Linked DNA regions of Homo sapiens. The protein of the gene in region 2 purifies or fractionates together with the protein of the main gene of each other region. This does not show direct contact. Each region holds a gene or a part of one and is shown on either strand. Other genes may lie near its edges.

Evidence for each region.
Region 1: the proteins of BMP5 (region 2) and VWA8 purify together in Homo sapiens (affinity purification with mass spectrometry; 2 studies listed by BioGRID and IntAct, with this or other methods). This does not show direct contact.

What each region holds. Positions count from the first base shown.
Region 1 is NC_000013.11:41,956,843-41,966,597, reverse strand, and holds the start of VWA8 (von Willebrand factor A domain-containing protein 8 isoform a precursor), read left to right. Parts: upstream 1-5,488; 5' UTR 5,489-5,582; coding exon 5,583-5,745; intron 5,746-9,755. UniProt on the Homo sapiens protein: Exhibits ATPase activity in vitro.
Region 2 is NC_000006.12:55,752,745-55,762,621, forward strand, and holds the end of BMP5 (bone morphogenetic protein 5 isoform 1 preproprotein), read right to left. Parts: intron 7,790-9,877; coding exon 7,713-7,789; intron 6,372-7,712; coding exon 6,261-6,371; intron 2,939-6,260; coding exon 2,789-2,938; 3' UTR 909-2,788; downstream 1-908.

The DNA.
Region 1 (9,755 bases), on a different chromosome or scaffold from region 2:
TGTGTGCCTGGTGAGGTGGAGTTAGGTGATGGACAGCCTCACTTGGTATGCAAGATGCAGGTGTAACTTGCATCAGAGAAGCAGAAGGAGTGGTCTGGCAGGCAGATATGACAGAATATCTAGTAAAGAGCGAAACATAGACATTGCTCCTTTGGAGGTAAAGGGATGGAATACCAATGTACCCTTTTATACACTTCTTCATATGTAATGAAAAATACTTATCATAGTAATCAAGGCTTCTAGACACGCCTCAAACACTGAATTTACATTTAATGCCCATTCAAAATATTTTAAATTATGGAGTTGCCTAACTTCTAAAGATTGGTTACTCGAATTGTTAACATTTCCTGAATACCTACTGTGTGCCAGGTGTTTTGCTAGACACTTTACATCTGTTATTGAAGCCTCACAACACTCTATTAAGTACTATCATATCTTTTTTTTTTTTTTTTTTTTTTGAGACAGGGTCTTGGCTCTGTTGCCAGGCTGGAGTGTGGTGGAGCGATCTTGGCTCACTGCAACCTCGACTCCTTGGTTCAAGTGATTATCCTGCCTCAGCCTCCTGAGTAGCTGGGATTACAGGCACGTGCCATCACGCCCAGCTAATTTTTGTATTTTTGGTAAAGACGGGGTTTCACCATGTTGGCCAGGATGGTCTCGATCTCCTGACCTCATGACCACCCGCCTCAGCCTCCCAAAGTGCTGAATTACAGGCGTGAGCCACCAAGTCCAGCCATATCTGTTTTACAGATGAAAATATTGAGGTGCAGAAAAGATAGCAATTTGGCTAATGTCATACAACTAGAAGTGATGAAGTATGATTGAAGCCCAGATTTGCCTGGTTCAAAAGCCCATAGTCTTCTTCGTATTTCTTCCTTACTTAAATCTATTTGCTCACATGGATTTGAGCTGCCTAAGTGTGGTGGAGGGAAAAAGTAATGTAAGTTGGCAACCTACTAGAAAGTGTCAATATTCTTAGTATGCAGAAAGCTCTTAAAATTAGTTAGAAAAATATTTTAAAAATACACAAAGGAGAATTAGATAAATAATAACTAAAAACACAAATTACTTATGAAAAAATGTTTATCCTTACTGGTAATCAAAGGGATAAAAATAAAAATACCCATCTATCTGGTCAGCCCTTTCTCTCTCTCCAAACCAGTCCCCCTAGCCCCTGTCTCCCACCTGTCTTCTCCAGCTCTGCAGCAGGCATACATCAAATGAAAGAGGCTGGGAATGGTGGCTCATGCCTGTAATCCCAGTAGTTTGGGAGGCAGAGGCAGGGAGATCACTTGAGCCCAGGAGTTTAAGACCAGCCTGGGAAACATAGTGAAACCTTGTCACTACAAAAAAACAAATTAGCTAGGCATGGTGGTACATGCCTGTAGTCCCAGCTACTAGGGAGGCTGAGGTGGGAGAATTGCTTGAGCCCAGGAGGTAGTGGCTGCAATGAGCTGTAATCATGCCACTGCACTCCAGCCTGGGTGACAGAGCCAGATCCTGTCTCAAAAAAATGGAAAAAAGAGCAATAAGAGGTCAGTCTTGGAGTACCAAAGAACCAGTGACTTTTGTGTTTTTTTTGTTTTTTTGTTTGTTTTTTGTTTTGAAACAGAGTTTTACTCTTGTTGCCCAAGTTGGAGTGCAATGGCACGATCTCAGGTCACTGCAATCTCTGCCTCCTGAGTTCAAGCGATTCTCCTGCCTCAGCCTCCCGAGTAGCTGGGATTACAGGTGCACATCACCGCACCCAGCTAATTTTTTGTATTTTTAGTAGAAATGGGGTTTCTCCATGTTAGCTAGGCTGGTCTCGAACTCCTGACCTCAGGTGATCCGCCCGCCTCGGCCTCCCAAAGTGTTGGGATTACAGGCGTGAGCCACTGCACCTGGCTGTGATTTTCCTTTTTCCCTCCCTCTCTATAAAGAACAGTTGTACAGCTTCATGACTGAAATGTGTGGCACATGGGTGATCTCCTATAGGTATTACTAAAGATGAATATTCTTGGGCCCTTTCAGACCTATTGACTCAGAATCTCTGGGTGCAGGGAGGAACGAAACCCTATAATCTGCATTTTAATAAGTTCTCCAGGTAATTAGGATGCACACAAAAGTCTGGGAACCAGTGGTATGAACCTTTGATTTCTTAGCTGGGGTAGACAGTAGGGAGGAGTGGAGCACCCACCTTTTTTCAGTCAGACATAGCATGGAAGGATTATTAGTTGCATTTTTCATCAAGTTACATTAATGTGGTATGTAAAAAATATTCCTCCCAAACTCTGGAAAGAGCTTGACAGTCAATACTAGCTTTTGGTAGTGTGATTTTCTTTTTTCTTTTTTTTTTTTTTTTTGAGACAGAGTCTCACTCTGTTGCCCGGGCTGGAATGCACTGGTGCGATCTCAGCTCACTGCAACCTCTGCTTCCCGGGTTCAAGCGATTCTCCTGCCCCTGCCTCCCGAGTAGCTGGGATTACAGGCACCCACCATCACGCCTGGCTAATTTTTGTATTTTTAGTAGAGATGGGGTATTGCCATGTTGGCCAGGCTGGTCTCAACTCCTGACCTCAGGTGATCCACCCATCTCAGCCTCCCAAAGTGCTGGGATTATAGGTTTGAGCCACTGTGCCCGGCTGGTAGCTTGTTTTTTAATAAGCATGTGATCAGATATTTTAGTGAGAGTTTGAGAGACTTTACACAGATTGTGATGAACATCTTTTAAAACAAAACACCTTTGGTTCTTCTTTAAAAACATTGTGAAGGTCCATTCTTTCCCATTCAGTCTCATTGCCATCAGCACTGTTCATCATTTCAAGTAGAGACTATTTTTACTGCCACGTAGCTAGCACTTGATGCTTCCTGTCTTCCTAATTCAATTCATAGTATGTCACCACCTAAAACACGATCAAAAAGTCCAGTAGCTGCCCAGTTTGCTCATCGGATGAAGTCCAACTTCATCCAGCTACTCAAGATTCTTCACTCTGTAACCTTCTCCTCCTGCTCTGCCAACACCTTCTACTACTTTCGAAAGATTAACCTCCTCATCTGGCTGGTCTCATGGCCCCTGTAACTGAACTCTGTCAGGACTCCAAGCCTCTACTTAGGCTCTATACCCCGCTTCTCTGTGTATCCAGTCCTAAATGGCATTCAAAGTTAAGCTCAGGTGCTGCCTTTTCTCAGGCTCAAAGTTTTCCTCCCCATTGTAGCTTTGTCACTCTAAAAAACCTTCACCATTTTTCCATTTCCTGGAGGTTAATGTGCAAACTCCTTCTCTTGGCATACAACATGGCCCCAGATTCTCTTTCTGGTCTTATTCTTACAAACTGTTGTATATACTTGACCTCTAGACACACTGAATCACTCTCTGGTTCTCAATCATGCCCTGCACTTTCAGCTGTTTCTTTCTCTCTCTCTCTGTACATGATCTGTCTGCCAGATTTGACTTGTCTCAGCCTGACAAACTCTTGTATAATATATCCTACATGAATCATTTCAAACACTACCTTCTCTGTGAAGACTCCAGGTGCAGCAATCCACTCCACAGTATGTTGAACCTAAATCTCTTGACACGTGTCTCACTGTATTGCAATTCTTTATTTGCATATTTATCATCAATACCTAATGTGAGCCCATTGATTCACAGTATCTAGCAGGGTACTGTTTATACAGCAGTTACTCAATAAATGTTGTCGTTGGGAGGCTGAGGCAGGAGGATCACTTGAGGCCAGGAGCTTGAGACCAGCCTGGGCAACATAACAAGACTCCACTGCTACGAAAACAAAAACACAAAAATTAGCCAGGCACAGTGGTGCACGCCTGTAGTCTCAGCTACTAGGGAGGCTGAAGCAGGAGGATCACTCGAGCCCAGGAGTTCGAGGTTGCAATGAGCTATAATACTGCCGCTGCACCCCAGCCTGGGCAACAGAGTGAGACTTTGTCTCTAAAAAAAATAAAACTAGGCAAAAAATGTTGTTGAATGCTCTAACTTGTGTTGATCTCTCCATTGTCTTAACTCCAAGAGCTCTTAGTGCTTATATCAACCACTTTGCAAAATTGCCTTAGGTTGTTCTCCCATTCTTTCAGGTGTCTACTGAGTTCCAGCGAGATTAAATGGAGATATCTTGACCAAGGTATTCAATTCTTCTAGCCTCAGTTTCTTCATCTGTAAAACGGAGGATAATAATAGTACCTCAAAGCATTTTTATGTGAAATGGGATAATTCATTAAAATCTTGATACATACAATGTGCTCAAAGTAGGAAAAGCATTTTATAAGCTTACATCCTAAATTTATGTCTTAGGGTTGCTATGAGGATTAAATGAGAAGATACACATGAAACGAAGTCATAATATATTGTGTAACTACTTATTACCTTTATTTTCACTGTCTCCTCATCTAGGTTAGAAGCCTGGTTCAGCCTTCATTCCTCAAGTTCTTCCGCTGGATGCCCAAAGCCTTCCTTACCTAGCCTTGTTTGACTTTTACAGTCTCCACTCTAACACTCTCTTCTCAGCACTCATCACAGGGTCAGGCGCAGGGTAGGTGCTATGTATTTAGACAGTGGCAGCTCTAGAATTAGCAAGGTCTTTAGCTGAAAGTGAGGTCTTCTGCCTTCTTTTTGATGTTTGCTTGTATAACTTGTCTCAAATATTTTGCCTTAGTCAATTCACTGTGACATTTTGGGGATGCAGTCTAATTACATTAGGCTTAGTTTGCTTTGTGGTAGGACCATTTCCGATGTTGGAATGTACAAGAGGGAGGCAGCCTTAGCCAGTGTCCTACTTTTTCCTTTACTAAAGACATAAATCATCTTTATATAACTTTTGTATTACAGCATGACTAGAAAAGTGCTTGATCTGGATCCTTTCTGATATTTAAGCAATTTCCATCTATCACTAAGATGTGAATTTTTTCCTTAGAATTTAGGAAGCGGTAATAAAACACAGAAACAAACAACCACCACCAAAAGGACAAAGGGTAAAGCTTTCACGTACGGTTTGGAAACACTAGTGTGGTTACAATGAATCAAGACAGTTGTGAAAGTTCCCATCATCTTGTGCATGTTTTCTCCATTTCCGAAATCTGAAGCCGAATACAGGGAAAGCTCCCTATACTTACTGGGCCTTTAACTAAGAAACGAAGACTTGGGGCAAGCATCTGAAGAGTCACACCGACAAATGCTCCTAAAACCCTTGGCATTTACTGAACTCCTGAGATTCTGTGGGATCGCAGGGAAACGGCGGGTGAAGGCCTGGTGCATCCAGGTGAACAGACAGTCTCACGGACTGCGAGGCGCTTGCCAGAGCCCAGCGCCGCAGCTCGGAGCACCCCCGCGGTGCGGGCAGTCCCGGGACGGTGCCGGCTCTTTGGGCTGGAGCTCCGCAGGCTCTTTCCGCCCGTCTGGGCCATGCAGGGCCGGGTAGGGCCGGGCTGAGTCTACTGAGCCGGCCGCGCCGCGGGGGAAGGAGTTTCCGGCGGACTCGGCTAGGTGCCGCTTCCTGTCCCCTTCTCCGCGCTGCCTCACGGTGCCTGCACGGGACGCCGCTCGATCCCCGAGCCCCCTCGCCGTCCCCGACAGCCCCCCCGGCGCCATGCAATCCCGGCTTCTACTCCTCGGGGCACCCGGAGGCCACGGCGGCCCGGCCTCGCGGCGCATGCGGCTGCTCCTGCGGCAGGTGGTGCAGCGCAGGCCGGGTGGCGACAGGCAGCGGCCGGAGGTCAGACTGTTGCACGCCGGCTCGGGGGCCGACACAGGTAACTCGGGGTGCGCCCCTGTCCTCCCTGGTGCCCCTGCGCTCCGTGCCGGGTCCCCGCGCGCCCCCGCCCCTCCTCTCTGTTGCTTCGCTGCGCTTGGAAGGACCGTTTGCCGAGCGGGGAGCTGAAAGATTGAGGTTCTAGTCCCGACCTCGGCGCTAACTGCTGTGTAACGTGGGGGCAAGGCGCTCGCCCTCTCTGTGCCTGATTCTGCAACCCGAGGGGTCTGGACTAAGGTTTCTGATGACCTAGAAGAGTGATTTCTCCTTCCCCTGCCGCTGCCTTTACCCCCAGAATTCTGACTTAGGTTATAATACTCGTAGAGGTTAATGCCTCAGCCCTATGGAATTATTGAAAGCTGGATTTGACCTTGCTCTCTGAGCCTCAAGGGCCTGGAAGCCGGTCTGTGTCATGTTCTAGCCAGGGCTTGTGGCGGCTTAGAAGGGAACATTCTTGCCAAAGAACCCATAGTTCACGGTGTTTTAAATGCATCCCCGAGCCTTTCCAAGTTTTACAGGAGTTTTCCTTAAAGTTTCACGTAATTCTTAGAGCTGACAGTTACACCTTAATTTAGTTAAAACACTTGCCTCTACAAATGAGGTAATTGAAACCCAGAAGGGAAAAGTGATTCGCTGGAGAACACACAACTAATTACTATGCTAGAATCACATGCTTTGATTTCTAAGCTCAGTATTTTTTGGCTCTACTTGAGCTGGTTTTAGGAATTCTTTTTCTTGTGTGTTGGTGGAGTTAGAGTTACTGTGATGGTTAAGGAAAGGATATCTGTTGTTGCTACCCTTGAATGGTGAAGTGATTCCAGACAAGATTTTGTCAATGTCAGTGCTGCTTGGAATAACAGGTTTTCACTATGAAATTGTAGGTTTCGTTGTCCTCTTGCATTTTCCCCGCAACCCCCAGTTTTCCTTGCTAAGAAATGAGCATATGGGCCGGGCGCGGTGGCTCACGCCTGTAATCCCAGCACTTTGGGAGGCTGAGGCGGGCGGATCACGGGGTCAGGAGATCGAGACCATCCTGGCTAACACGGTGAAACCCCCGTGTCTACTAAAAAGAAAATACAGAAAAATTAGCCGGGCGTGGTGGCGGGCGCCAGTAATCCCAGCTACTCCGGAGGCTGAGGCAGAAGAATGGCGTGAACCCGGGAGGCGGAGCTTGGAGTGACCGGAGCCACTGCACTCCGGCCTGGGCGACAGAGCAAGACTCCATCTCAAAAAAAAAAAAAAAAAAAGCATATTTAGGTCCCACGTATTTCGTTTTATTCATTGAAGACATACACCACCCCCGTCCCCCACCATAGTGTTGCAATTTCAAATTTTACTTTTTGTTTTTTTTTTTTTTTTTGCTTTTTCTCAATTACTCTCACTTCTGGGCTGTTTATTCATTTGTTTTTTACATTTTTTGTGTGTTCTTTATTTGTTTTTTGCTCCTTTGCCCTAGAAGGCAGAGGTCAAAGGTGGAAGTATAGCATAAACTATAGGTTGGGTTTTGGAGTTAAACAATTTGGGTTGGAATCCACTTATCCACTATCTAACCATGGGTCGTTGAGGGTAGGTTACTTAACTTTGTGTCCTAGTTTTCTTAACTGTAAAAGGATAAGAAGAATATATCTATTATGGTTGTTGTGAGGATTTATTAATTAATATAATCTGTGGCACATATTAATGCTCAATAAAAGTTAGCTTTTTTATTCTTAGTATGTACAGTTTTAGCTATTTGAGAATTATTCTGTTTCCTTGCCTTTAGAAGACATGAAACCAAGTTTGTTTAGATTCAGGACTGTTCAGACTATCTGGGTAGGCAGATTTAGCCGAGTGAATTGACTTGAACTTTTTAAAAAACAATTGTTCTTTGTACATGGATAATACATGTTGATTGTAAAAACACATGTGGGTGTGAGTTTTTAAAGTCTGTATTATATACGTATTGGTAGATAAGTTGTAAATGTCCTCAAATTTTGTTATAGCCAGTAAATCAAAGTATAGGCTTTGCTTCAAATGTGAGAGTCATGGACATATTACAGAGAACATACTATCTTCTTTAAATCAGTCATTTACTCTGGCAGGATCAGACCAAAAAGAGGTATTTTTTGAGGGTGTGAGAACTGTAACTGAATGCAGCTGGGAACCCACCAGAGATCTGGACTTGAGTAAGAGCAGTTGTGAGCCAGGTAAATGGACAGCACACTTTTGGCTACTCTGAGGCCTGAGAGTAAGGCTATCAAGATGGAAGTGTCCCATTTTGAATCAGAGATCATACATGGACAAGTGTAAAACTACAAATAGCAATAGGCCATAATGGATTACATCTTATGTTGGGATGATGCTCTCAGCTGCATTCATACATGTGACCAGTAACTGATTATCTCCTCTCTCTGTAATTGACATTGCTTCCTAATAGTTTGAAAAAAGAACAACAAAGTTCATAAATAATATATTTAAGTTATATACTGCTGTTATTTCTCCTGGAGTATTTGTTTTGTTTATCTATATATTCGTTTGGTGCCTGCCAACACTTTGTACCTAGTAAGCATTCAGTGGCTTATTTTGTGAAAGTTCATACAGAGAAGGAGCAGGAGAGGCTGGAATTGTCGTTTGCTCTCAAGAGAGGACCTTTGTTAAGCCTGATAAGCAGAAGGAAAATAGGTCATTTATGTTAAAAACAAAACAAGCAGATAAACTCAACCCAAACCCACTGCTTTTTATCCTGTGCTGTCAGATAGTATAAGTATCTATAATTGTAAATTCTTTATATCTCTTTATACTTCCATTAAAATTACTGTCTCTTGGTTTTAAGAGCAAAGAGGTTAACAAGGATATCTACTGCAGAGAGTTTTCAATAAAGATTATTGTAGTGTTTTTACAGATGGAGCCAAGCAAGTTGTTTCAGTGGGACTCTGATGTTAAATGGATTCAAATATACTATAGATCAAATGATAAACCTAGAAACATAACTGTATAAATATATCATGACATTTTGGTGCTTTCCTTTAACGCCATTATTATTAAAGGGATTCACAGTTTTTTCTTTATGACTCTTGTATATGAAGTAAATTTGTTTATAGAAATACCCTAAAATACTTTTACACAGCAATCTATGTTTATTATAGAAGAGTGATAAGTACAGATTCCCTAAAACATGATCCTCCCACCCAAATTTATAATTATCAACTTTTTAGCATTAATCCTATCAGATTACATATATATGTATAATTATTTATTTATTTATTTTTGAGATGGAGTCTTGCTGTGGCACCCAGGCTGGAGTGCAGTGGAGCAGTCTTGGCTTACTGCAACCTCCACCTCCTGGGTTCAAGCGATTCTCCTGCTTCAGCCTCCCAAGTAGCTGGGACTACAGGTGTGCACCACTGTATTAATCTGTTCTCACACTGCTATAAGGACATGCCAGAGACTGGGTAATTTATGAAGAAAAAGAGGTTTCATGGACTCAATAGTTTCGCATGGCTGGGTAGGCCTCACAATCATTGTGGAAGGCGAAGGAGGAGAAAAGTCACGTCTTACATAGCGGCAAGTAAGAGAGCTTGTGTACAGAAACTCCCCTTTATAGAACCATCAGACCTCGTGAGACTTTTTCACTACCACGAGAACAGCACAGGAAAAACCTGCCCCCATGATTCAATTACCTCCCACTGGGTCCCTCCCATGACACATGGGGATTATGGGAGCTAGAATTCAAGACAAGATTTGGGTCGGACACAGGCAAACCATATGAGCCACCCCAGCTAATTTTTGTATTTTTGGTAGAGATGGGGTTTCACCATGTTGGCCAGGCTGGTCTCGAACTCCTGACTTAAAGTGATCTGCCCATCTTTGCCTCCCAAAGTGCTGGGATTACAGATTTGAGCCACTGTGCCTGGATGATATGTATATTTATACAGATACATTTTTTTAAAGAAATGGGATCATGTATGTTTTATAATTATTACATCCATTATTGTGAACATATTAACATGGTAATAAATATCATTGTACATG
Region 2 (9,877 bases):
TACTTTCTCTTCAATTATGATCTTAAAGAAACTTGATAAAACACAGATGTATACCTGTATACCAACAATTTTTATGCTTTATCAGCAAAGGCATCTTCACTTCTAACTTTAAAAAATTCCAGACCAAAAAAAAAATTGTGAAAGGAAAAATAGGTAATCTGAGATGGAAATTAGATAATAGATTGAGCACTGGACTGAATGGTTATGAGATGGTTACTTGTGTTTGGGAATGAGGATTTCTTCTGCCTTGAATGGAACTGGAACATAAGCTAATTATTCATTGTAAATGTCTTGGGAGATGATATCTGCCAGCTTGTGAAGTACCCAGTAGACTCTGGCTTGGGTTTGATGATGATGATACTAGGATTATAAAATGACAGTTCTTAGTTGAGAAAAAAATAATTTTGGATTTTCTGCCTGTGTTTTCTTAATTTCTTTAGTTTAATGTAGACTATTTTTGCCTTAGTTTTAAAGAATTTGAATATTTATGATTTATGCCCTTCTATTTCCAAAAAGGATTATGGCCACTTTACAAAGTAAAAACAAGTATAAAACAGAAAAATTAAAAATAAACAATCAAAAAAGTGAGTACATCATTAACGAACTAAAAAGACCTGAATGAAGACCTGTTAAAATAGGTCAAATTATTCTGGTGTCTAGTAAGAGCTTGAGTATCACCAAGGTGATACTAAGAGTTTACTGTAATAGTTATTAGAAACTAATGTGACCAAGTATATGTGCGTATTATGCTACACATATGTAATTTTAGAAAATGCAAAAGCACTGATGCCAATTACCTCCCTTCTCATATGAAAAAGAACAAATGAGGTATTTCTCCATTCTAATTATTTTTTGCTATTTTTAAAATTTGTTGTTTGAACAGATTAAGAAAATCTTTAATTCATGGATTGTTGCTTTGCACATTTAATAGTGAGATAATTATTAACAACACAAAAAACAATTTTGGCAATTAAGAACAACATAAAGAATCATGTGATCCACAAACAGTTTACATTTGATAAATATTCTTATTGTCTCAATTTATGATATACTTACATTTTGTATTCCTTTTAAATAAAGAACCAAATCAAGAACAGCAGAAATTAGCATCTGTTTAATATATTTTAAAATATGGAAATATATTTAAACAGCACATTTAAAGAATAAAACAATAGACTTCCATTTCTTATTCTCTCAATGGTACACCATTAATTAAAAATATATTACTTAATGTACCCCTTAATATAGTTACTGTCAAATTTTCTTTAAGATAAACTGTATTTCAAAACAACATTTTAATATACCCGAATTACAAACAAAGCCATAACATTTTTGAAGACATTTTTGGTATACGTTTGGTTTGAAAGATCCAAAAGGATGATTAATAAATGGTGCTTTATGAATACTTTAGATTAACGGTAAATAAGCCTAACCACAGAGTCACCATAAATAGCAAGTTATCAATCTAAAGATCATTCTTCAAAAAGTCAGTGTGTGTTAAAGAAAGGCCTTAGAGGGCATTCTAATAGATAGAGAAAATAAATTAATTTTAGAGGGAAGAACACACATGCACACACAGACACACACACACACACACACACAACAGAACCTTCCTGTTTGGAATTATTTGTGCTTGGAAGAAGGTTTACAAAATGCCTTTACAAAATAAGGTTTTCATTGAGCTCACTCTCAAAGATATGAAAAATGAATTTCAGCTGTTCTTTAGAAATGGCAATTCTGTCAAAGCCATTCTGGGACTTTTGGTAATTTCCTCCAGTTTAGTTTCAGTGCTTTTACTTCTAAATAAAATCCCTTGCATCACATCAATCAGCAAACTCAGTTATAAAGGAGAGCTAAAGAAAATGGTTCTTTCGGCATCTTCTGCTCTTGTACATTTTACGCATGCAGTGACTCTTGCCTGTGGGGAGGAAAGTGGAGCACATGTAAATGTTTCTTTATTTTGGACTAGGTTTTTAAATCTGAAAAAAAAATTCTGCAGCAGTAGTGTTCTAGATAATAGGCAGACATGATTTATTTGAGGTAAGAAGGTTGTACTACAATTAGTGTTAACTTGGAAAGCTATGGACACAGGCTCAAGCCTGTCTCCTGAAGCTTTGAGCTCTTTGCAAAATCTACAATCCACAAGCCAAAAAGGAACATGCTCCTACAGTTACACCACTTCTGTTAAAGCAAACAGTTAAAACAATTCTGTGCAATCTTTCAGCTTCTATGTTCTGCCTACCGTTTATTTATTCAAATCCAGTTCAACATTTCACTTTATCTAATGAAGCAGGAACTCTAAAAGAGAAATTGTGTTTATCCAAGAATTTTTGTTTGGGTTGTTATTTTTTTAAGTCTTATTTCTAAATAAATATTCTATCATGGTTTTCATTGGCACAATATAACTAAATTATTCAATTTCCTTCCACAATATTAAACAGTCAAAGGAGTTCTGTCTAATCTCAGAAAATTATGTAAAATTGTATTAGAAAAAAATGTTGAAATGGAATTGAATGGACTCAGCATAACCCATTGAAAATTATACTAGATGATCTATTGTATAATGTAGTGGCCTATGAAATAGATTTTATTGATAAAGCCTCCACAGAAGAGAATATATACGTTTAAATAAATAAAAATGACTATATACATGATATTGTACATAGGAAAAGAGTCAAAATGAGCCAGACTAATTTTAGGAAATTCCCCGTTTGTCTGAAAGTATGCTTTTTATTGCAGCCATAAACCTTAATACAGATCTTTTTGTTATTATCAATATTATTTAATATTAGTGGCAGCCACATGAGCGTACTACCATATTTCTATATTTTTTCAAAATGACATTGGAGCTGTCATCAAAGTACAGAACAGAGATGGCATTTAATTTGGTTGGAGCACAACAAGGCTTTGGTACGTGGTCAGGAAACATCAGATGAACCTGGGAAAGAAAAAAGGTTTTGTTTTATTAAGAAATAAAATATACATTCTTTTGCAGTTTTAAAATGGTATGATTATTTTATCACTCATAATCAGGCACACCATTAAGCTGATCTCCCTTCTCCCATTTATTCCATGACTGGGGTGGGGGACTGAAGGATGTATTCTTAAGCATTAACACCTGGAATCAACCCAGCCAATTCAATTATGTGTTTGAACCTTGAAAAATATCTCACCAAATAAAGAAAACTTCCTCTATAGAATATTCAGTGGAAGTTTTCCTAGGGAAAGAACACAGCAACTAGCACGTTGTTGCTTTTAGTTGAAATAACTGTTCCTATATATATCATGAGGAATATGGAAGTTACAAGAGCAAATCAATGAAAACACATAGTTGCAGAAAGATTTGGATCTAAGAATTATCTTTTAAAAGGAAAATTAAGCAATAAATCATACATTTTAAGCCAACTCTTAATTTTCCATGGTAAAAGAAGCATAAAAATCATAATAAAATAAAATCCACATATAATCCAATACTTGCCTTAGAGCAATGATTTCAGCTCTTCATAGAATTTTTTTATCACATTGGCTGGAGTTTAATATCCATTTACTTTTTTTCTCCCTTGCCTGCCCCCTAGACAAGTGCCAAAAAGCAGGCTAAGCTAAATCAGAAGCAAAGGGCCTAGAGACTTTACAAATGAACATCCACCTCCCCAAAAGCCTAAAAAGGTGTCTGTACATGAAAAGTGAAATGCTTAAGTAAAGGGTTGATAATAATTTTGATCAGACTGGCAGTCTGCCTATGATTTGAAATAATTGAGAAAAGAGCCAGAACACAGTTCCCCCATTTCCCACCCACCTATTCTGGCCCTTCCCCCAGAGGAGTTTATGGGAAATCCCACTGATGAGTCTTACGGGATCCACAAAAAGCAAATACAGCCTCTTACAGTTTTGGCTGTACAACGTCCTGGCTGAAATGATATAGGGGCCTTGCATGTGGACAGAAACAGCAGGAAAAATGAGGTGATCTGACATGAACTTGAAATTTCCTAAGGCCTCACAAAACTAAAAGTTGGATAGTTTCTACAAATTTCTGATGCTGCTTATGTCCTTCATCAGCTTTATCTTCCATAACCCACACATACATGATTGATAATCCTGCTGTTTCAATGGCCTTGGCAGCCTAACGGAAAAAAAATGGATTGTTCTTGAATGGTTTCTCAATATATTAGTCACAAACATGCTTTCCTCCGTCTTTTTGTTTCATGTCCTTCACAGAACAAACATAAAGCGTGCACAACACCAGGGAAAAAAAATCAAACTTCACGTGTATGCTCCAGTTTTGCAATGACTTATGTCCTACATCCCAGGGTAGAGATACAGAGCAGACTCTTGTTCAAAGTTTGTGTCAGATTTTTTTTATATTTGTTTTTTGATACTTTACTACAGCCATAAGAGCTGAAAATATGTATTTATTTATTTTAAAAAAGAAAAAATGAGAGAAGGGGGAGTATTTGACAAAGGGTATTTTTCAATAAGTAGGCATTGCTTAGCCTGAGGGAATTTTTGATACATTAGATCCATATCTAAGGAAGCAAAAGTCTGCTTTCATAGTCATCAAAATGATGATAAAAAGAGGCAAAGAATTTTCTGAGAAATTAAATAGCATTACTTCAACTGATAGGAGTTATTCTATGACCTTACAGAAAGACAGTGATCATGAAGTTCTCTTCATAGGATGAAACAACAGCATTCTTCTTTATCTGATATGCTTTCATGTCAACATGAATTCTCATATACAAAGAGAAAAGTTAGCTTCTTAAAAATTCTTTTAGTGGTAGAAGTTTGAATGCAAAACATCCATCCTTGCAAAGCCTACCTACACTCCATACTCCTGGAAACACTATTCCATATAAAGAAGAGCTTATACTTACAGATAGCAAAGGTGAAGTCATATCAGACTTTAAATCCCCCCAGAAATTTACTCTTTACCTTGTATATGGCACTAAAGTAGGCATTCTCACTGGTCATGAATCAATAAAAAGAAGAATACTTATAAATAATTTATTATCAAAATGTATATTTGCTTTATCTTTCTGTTGCTCTCTAGCCCAAGGTTATTTCCAGTCTTTGATAACGTTCATGCTCTAGTTGTTATAGATTGCACTTTTTGGTGTCTAGATATTCTGTCGTATTTTATTAAGTCAATAAAGATGCCAGTAAATATCAAGTCATTCAAGTATTTGCTTTTGCCAGTTCACAGATATCATTGTTTATTCCTTAATTCAGCTTTAAGTTTTAAATTAATTGTGGGGGAAAATAGCAAACTTATGGAGAGTCGAATCTTCACAAATTCTAAGAGTAATTCTTTCTTTTTCCATAAATAAACCTCACCCACAAAGACAAGATTGTCTACTATCTACTTTTCTCTTACTGGCGTCCACCAAATAATTCCACTCCCATCAAGCCTTGATTCTAAAATAATGTGTTCTCTCCCATTCTTCTTAAATACAAAAGTTAAAATTTTTATATTAGCCCAAACATTGATTTAAAATTATGTCACATAGTCTGGTATGTTTTCTAGGAGCCTCTCATTTAGTCTTAGGGAGATTGTTCCTCTGCCAAATCGATAGGCCAGATGCTATGAGGTACATCAGACTCTCAATAGGTTTCATGAGCTCATTAGGTACAAGGCAATCAGTTAATCACGTCAACCCTTCAGTACATTGTTCATAAAAATAAGCCTAGATTATTAGAGATTTAATCACTGCTAAGTTTCTGAGATTGAGGAATAAAGAAAAGGAAGTATAATTTCTACTTTAAAGATTACAGGAGGAGGAGGAGAACAATAAGAAATAGAAATTAGCTTCCTATTTGTATACTACATTGAAGAACTTTTATAATACCAAAGTATGTTATAGAACATTCTTAAATAATTAAAAACCCTCAGATGAAATTTAGTACAGCTATTACTCAATGTTTTTGCAATGATTACTAATGAATTGCTAGGTTAGAAACAGCCCCAGGGAACCTGTGTGCTTAGTCATACTGTGTAATGAACAAACAGTTCAAGATGACCATTTCATGTTATTACTCCAGTTTTCCTAGCTGAATCCTTCTCCATTGTGTAACTGGGATTACTCTAAACCAGCCCGAGTTTCCTGACTATACCCACAGTTGTTACTTCAGCTCTAAAAAGAAACAAATGAGTTTGAGAAGATAAAATAATGCATTAAAATTGTAAATAGATGCTTTCCTCTAAAACAACTTTATAATATGCTTGCATTCTAAGCTTTTCTTAATCCTTCAAAAACAAAGCTTACCAGAGTCTGAACTATAGCGTGGTTGGTGGCATTCATATGGGCGTTAAGTGGAAAAGAACATTCTCCATCACAATAAAATGCAGCGTATCCTTCTGGTGCTATAATCCAGTCCTGACACATACACACACACACACACACACAAAAAAAAAAAAAAAAAAAAAAAAAAAAAAAAAAAAAAACAACAAGAAAAAATATCACCAAAGTAAAAATTTTTAAAAAATCTTAAAAGTTATTGAAATATATTGTATCTGAATAGGTTTCTATTCTTGGTCCAACAATTATTCTAATGGAATTATCTTCCCCACACCCTTTAATTTTAAGCTGAAGTTTAGGACAAAAGTATAAATATTTTCACAAGAAATTGTCCTCTCTAATTACTCCCAAGGGGTAGTTATGTAAGATATTCATAGTATGTATTAAACATGTATTCACGAATAAAACTATTATAAGAAAATAGCATTCTAAATATTGTTTAAACAGGAAATGATGAACTCTGGAAAGTTCAAGTGAACCCGAAAGAAAAAGGAGAATCAAGTTAATTGAGATCATTCTCATTACTTCTTAAGAACTCATTCTTAGTTTTATAAGTCTGACAACATCCTAAAGCCTTAATATTTTTTCTGCATGCTGTTTTTCTTTCCATTCATGCATTAACTTTATGGTCTCTTTAGAAAAAATAAATTGGAGCAAATTCCTAAAAACTGAACATGATAAATTTCGGGAAGCTAAAGAATTGGTACATGAATGGTTGCCTTGATATTTTTCCCACAGAGAAATAAAACTTGGCACAAATGTAGGAATTATTGAGTTATTCATGTGGAAAGTTTATCATGAATTTTGAATATATTTACATTTTAATAGTATTTCTCAATACAGGAACTCATATATGAGAATCCATTCTAATAGAATATTAGGAGAAGTCTTAAAATTTCATTTTAAACTGTCACCACATAGAGCCATTAAAAAATTACTTTGGTGAAATTTTCCTCCTCATCCTGTTTCTAAAGGCTACCCAAAAGATAGCAATACATTTTTAAGTGCAAGAAAAAAAAATGTCTGTCATCTTCCCCATGACAGGGACATTCCAATAGTTGGAGACCCTCAGAGGCTTAGTGGAGTTACTTATACTAATATGAACAAATCTTCTATTTACAATAAAATTAAAAGTTTGGAATACTTAAACAACGGCACTCTTTTTTTTCTTCCTAAATATCTTAGTGTTCTATGTCTCATTCAGCGTAGTTTTTTTGTTTGACTGTGATACCTACTAATCATGTTTCAATGGTAAAAGGTTAATTGAGAAATGAAAATAAAGTGAATAAGCCATATTCTAAATGGTCATGTCAAAAATCATTGGGTATTATATTGGAAAATTACTGCCAAAGACTATGACTTATTAAGGATTTATGATAATTCAGAAAAGAAGCACCAAAGTTGACTGAAAATTCCTACCTGCCATCCCAGATCCCGGAAGCTCACATAGAGTTCGTGCTTCTTACAGGCTTGTTTTTGCTCACTTGTGTTATAATCTGAAGATAAAAACCACATTTTGAATAAATGGTTGCTTACAGATATACTAATACTTCTTTTGTGAGATCACTGGTAAGATTTTTTAAAGGGGTTTTATTTGAAGTTGTGGAAAAATGAGTTTCAATCTTAAAGTTAGAACTACTTACTAACCATGTGAACTTCAGTCAAGTTACTTGTCCTGAGTTTCTTCTTCTGTGAGATGTAGACAATACCATTTACCTGATGAAGCTCTAACATGGATTCTGTTAAGCCATCTACTTGACAGGGCACAGCATGGTGTCTGTCGTTCATTGAGTACCATCTGCTCAATGAATACTTATTCATTAATTCATTCATACTCTAGGGGTACTTAATATATTGAGAGAGATTATATATATATAATATTTGTGCAATAACTTGTAACATCTTCCATGAGGCAGATACTGGGATCTTACTTAGCTGATTTTATTTTAATAAATATCTTAACCTCAGGATACCACAAGTTGAGCTTCTAATCATCCCCCAAAATCCTGTCCACCTGTAGACTTCATTCTTGACTAATGGTAGTTGCCTGGGTTAAAAAATAAAAACCAAAACAAAACAACAAGAATCAAAATAGTTCTTTTTTTTTCTTTCATTTACACATCCAATCTGTCAGGAAATCTCACACACTATCTTCAATAAGTCCAAAATGCACCTGCTCTCACGCCCTTCATAATTGGTCTTGGTCCAAGACACCATCATCTCTGGCATGAATTACTGCAATATCCTCATTGCTAGTCTCCCTGCTTCTGCCCTTGCTCCTCTATAGCAAACTAGTCAAGTGGACCTTTTAACAAGTAAACTTAATTACATCACTTCCCTGCCAGTCCCTCTATGGTCTTCATATCATTAAGAGTGAAATATTCTCAGAGTGGTTACAAGGCTCTTTACATTTTGGTCTTATTACCCCTCTGACTCATTTGATCCTATTACCCCTCTGACTCTCACTTCTTCTCCTTCACCTTGCTCCAGCCACCATACCTCCTTGCTGTTTCACTCACAGTCAACCTTGCTCCCACTTTAGAGCCTTTTCTCTCACTAGTCCCTCTCCCTGGATAGCTACATGGCTAATTCCTGCATCTTCATGTCCTTGCTTAAGCAACATCTCAACAAGACCTTCACTACCCTTTTAATATTGCAACTCTCACCCTGATACACCTGATTTCTCTCACTCTGTTCTGATTTTTTTCCATCTCAATTATCACTTTTAGAAATGCTATGTCATTTCCTCATTTATTTATGTGTGGCTTCTTGTCTGTTTCCTCCCACTAAAATATAAGCGTCATAGGGGCAAGAATCTCGTTTGGCTCTGTTTTGCTCACTGATGTATCCCTAGTGCCAGGAACAGTGCCTGGCATAAAATAAACATTCAAAAAAGTATCTGAGGAGTTAATGGACAAATTTCTCATAGTGTTCCATAAGTGATTTGAGGCAAGTGAAATACTATCATTACATATTTTGGAATGTAATCTGAAATACCCATAACTTTTTATAATTGTTTTAAATTATTAAATATAAATGTAGAATTTCAATCTTGCATCTGGAATAAAGTAAAATACTGAAGAAACACAGAGATTTATGGAACATTTTTCATTCTTGTCTTGTGTTGGGTTTGCTCACATTTTGTACAAATAACATTCGAAAAACTAGTCCACTTTGATTATTTCTAAAATAAAATATTAAAGAAATAAAATTAAAAAATAATTTGTTTTACAGTTTTTGTTAAAGTGTCACCTTCCTGTTTAATTACTCTCAACCTCTAATGAAAGTGTAGGCAAGTTAGAGATCAAAGGAGCCCATCATAGAGGGCCTTGCTTCTCATGGTTACTTCAAGTAATTATTTGTTTAATGTTAATCTAAAAAACAAGCTAATGATTAAATTTTGAAATCAAGGTATTTTTCTTCTAGGTTATTTATTCCTACTATGCAATTAACTTCATTAAAACAGATTAAATAAGTAGATAATGGGAAATGGGGGAGAGAGGATTTATTTCAGACTCTACATTCTGGTTCTTCTTCAGGGAAATATCTCCCTTGCAGCTAACTTTGTTCAGGCAATGGATAAA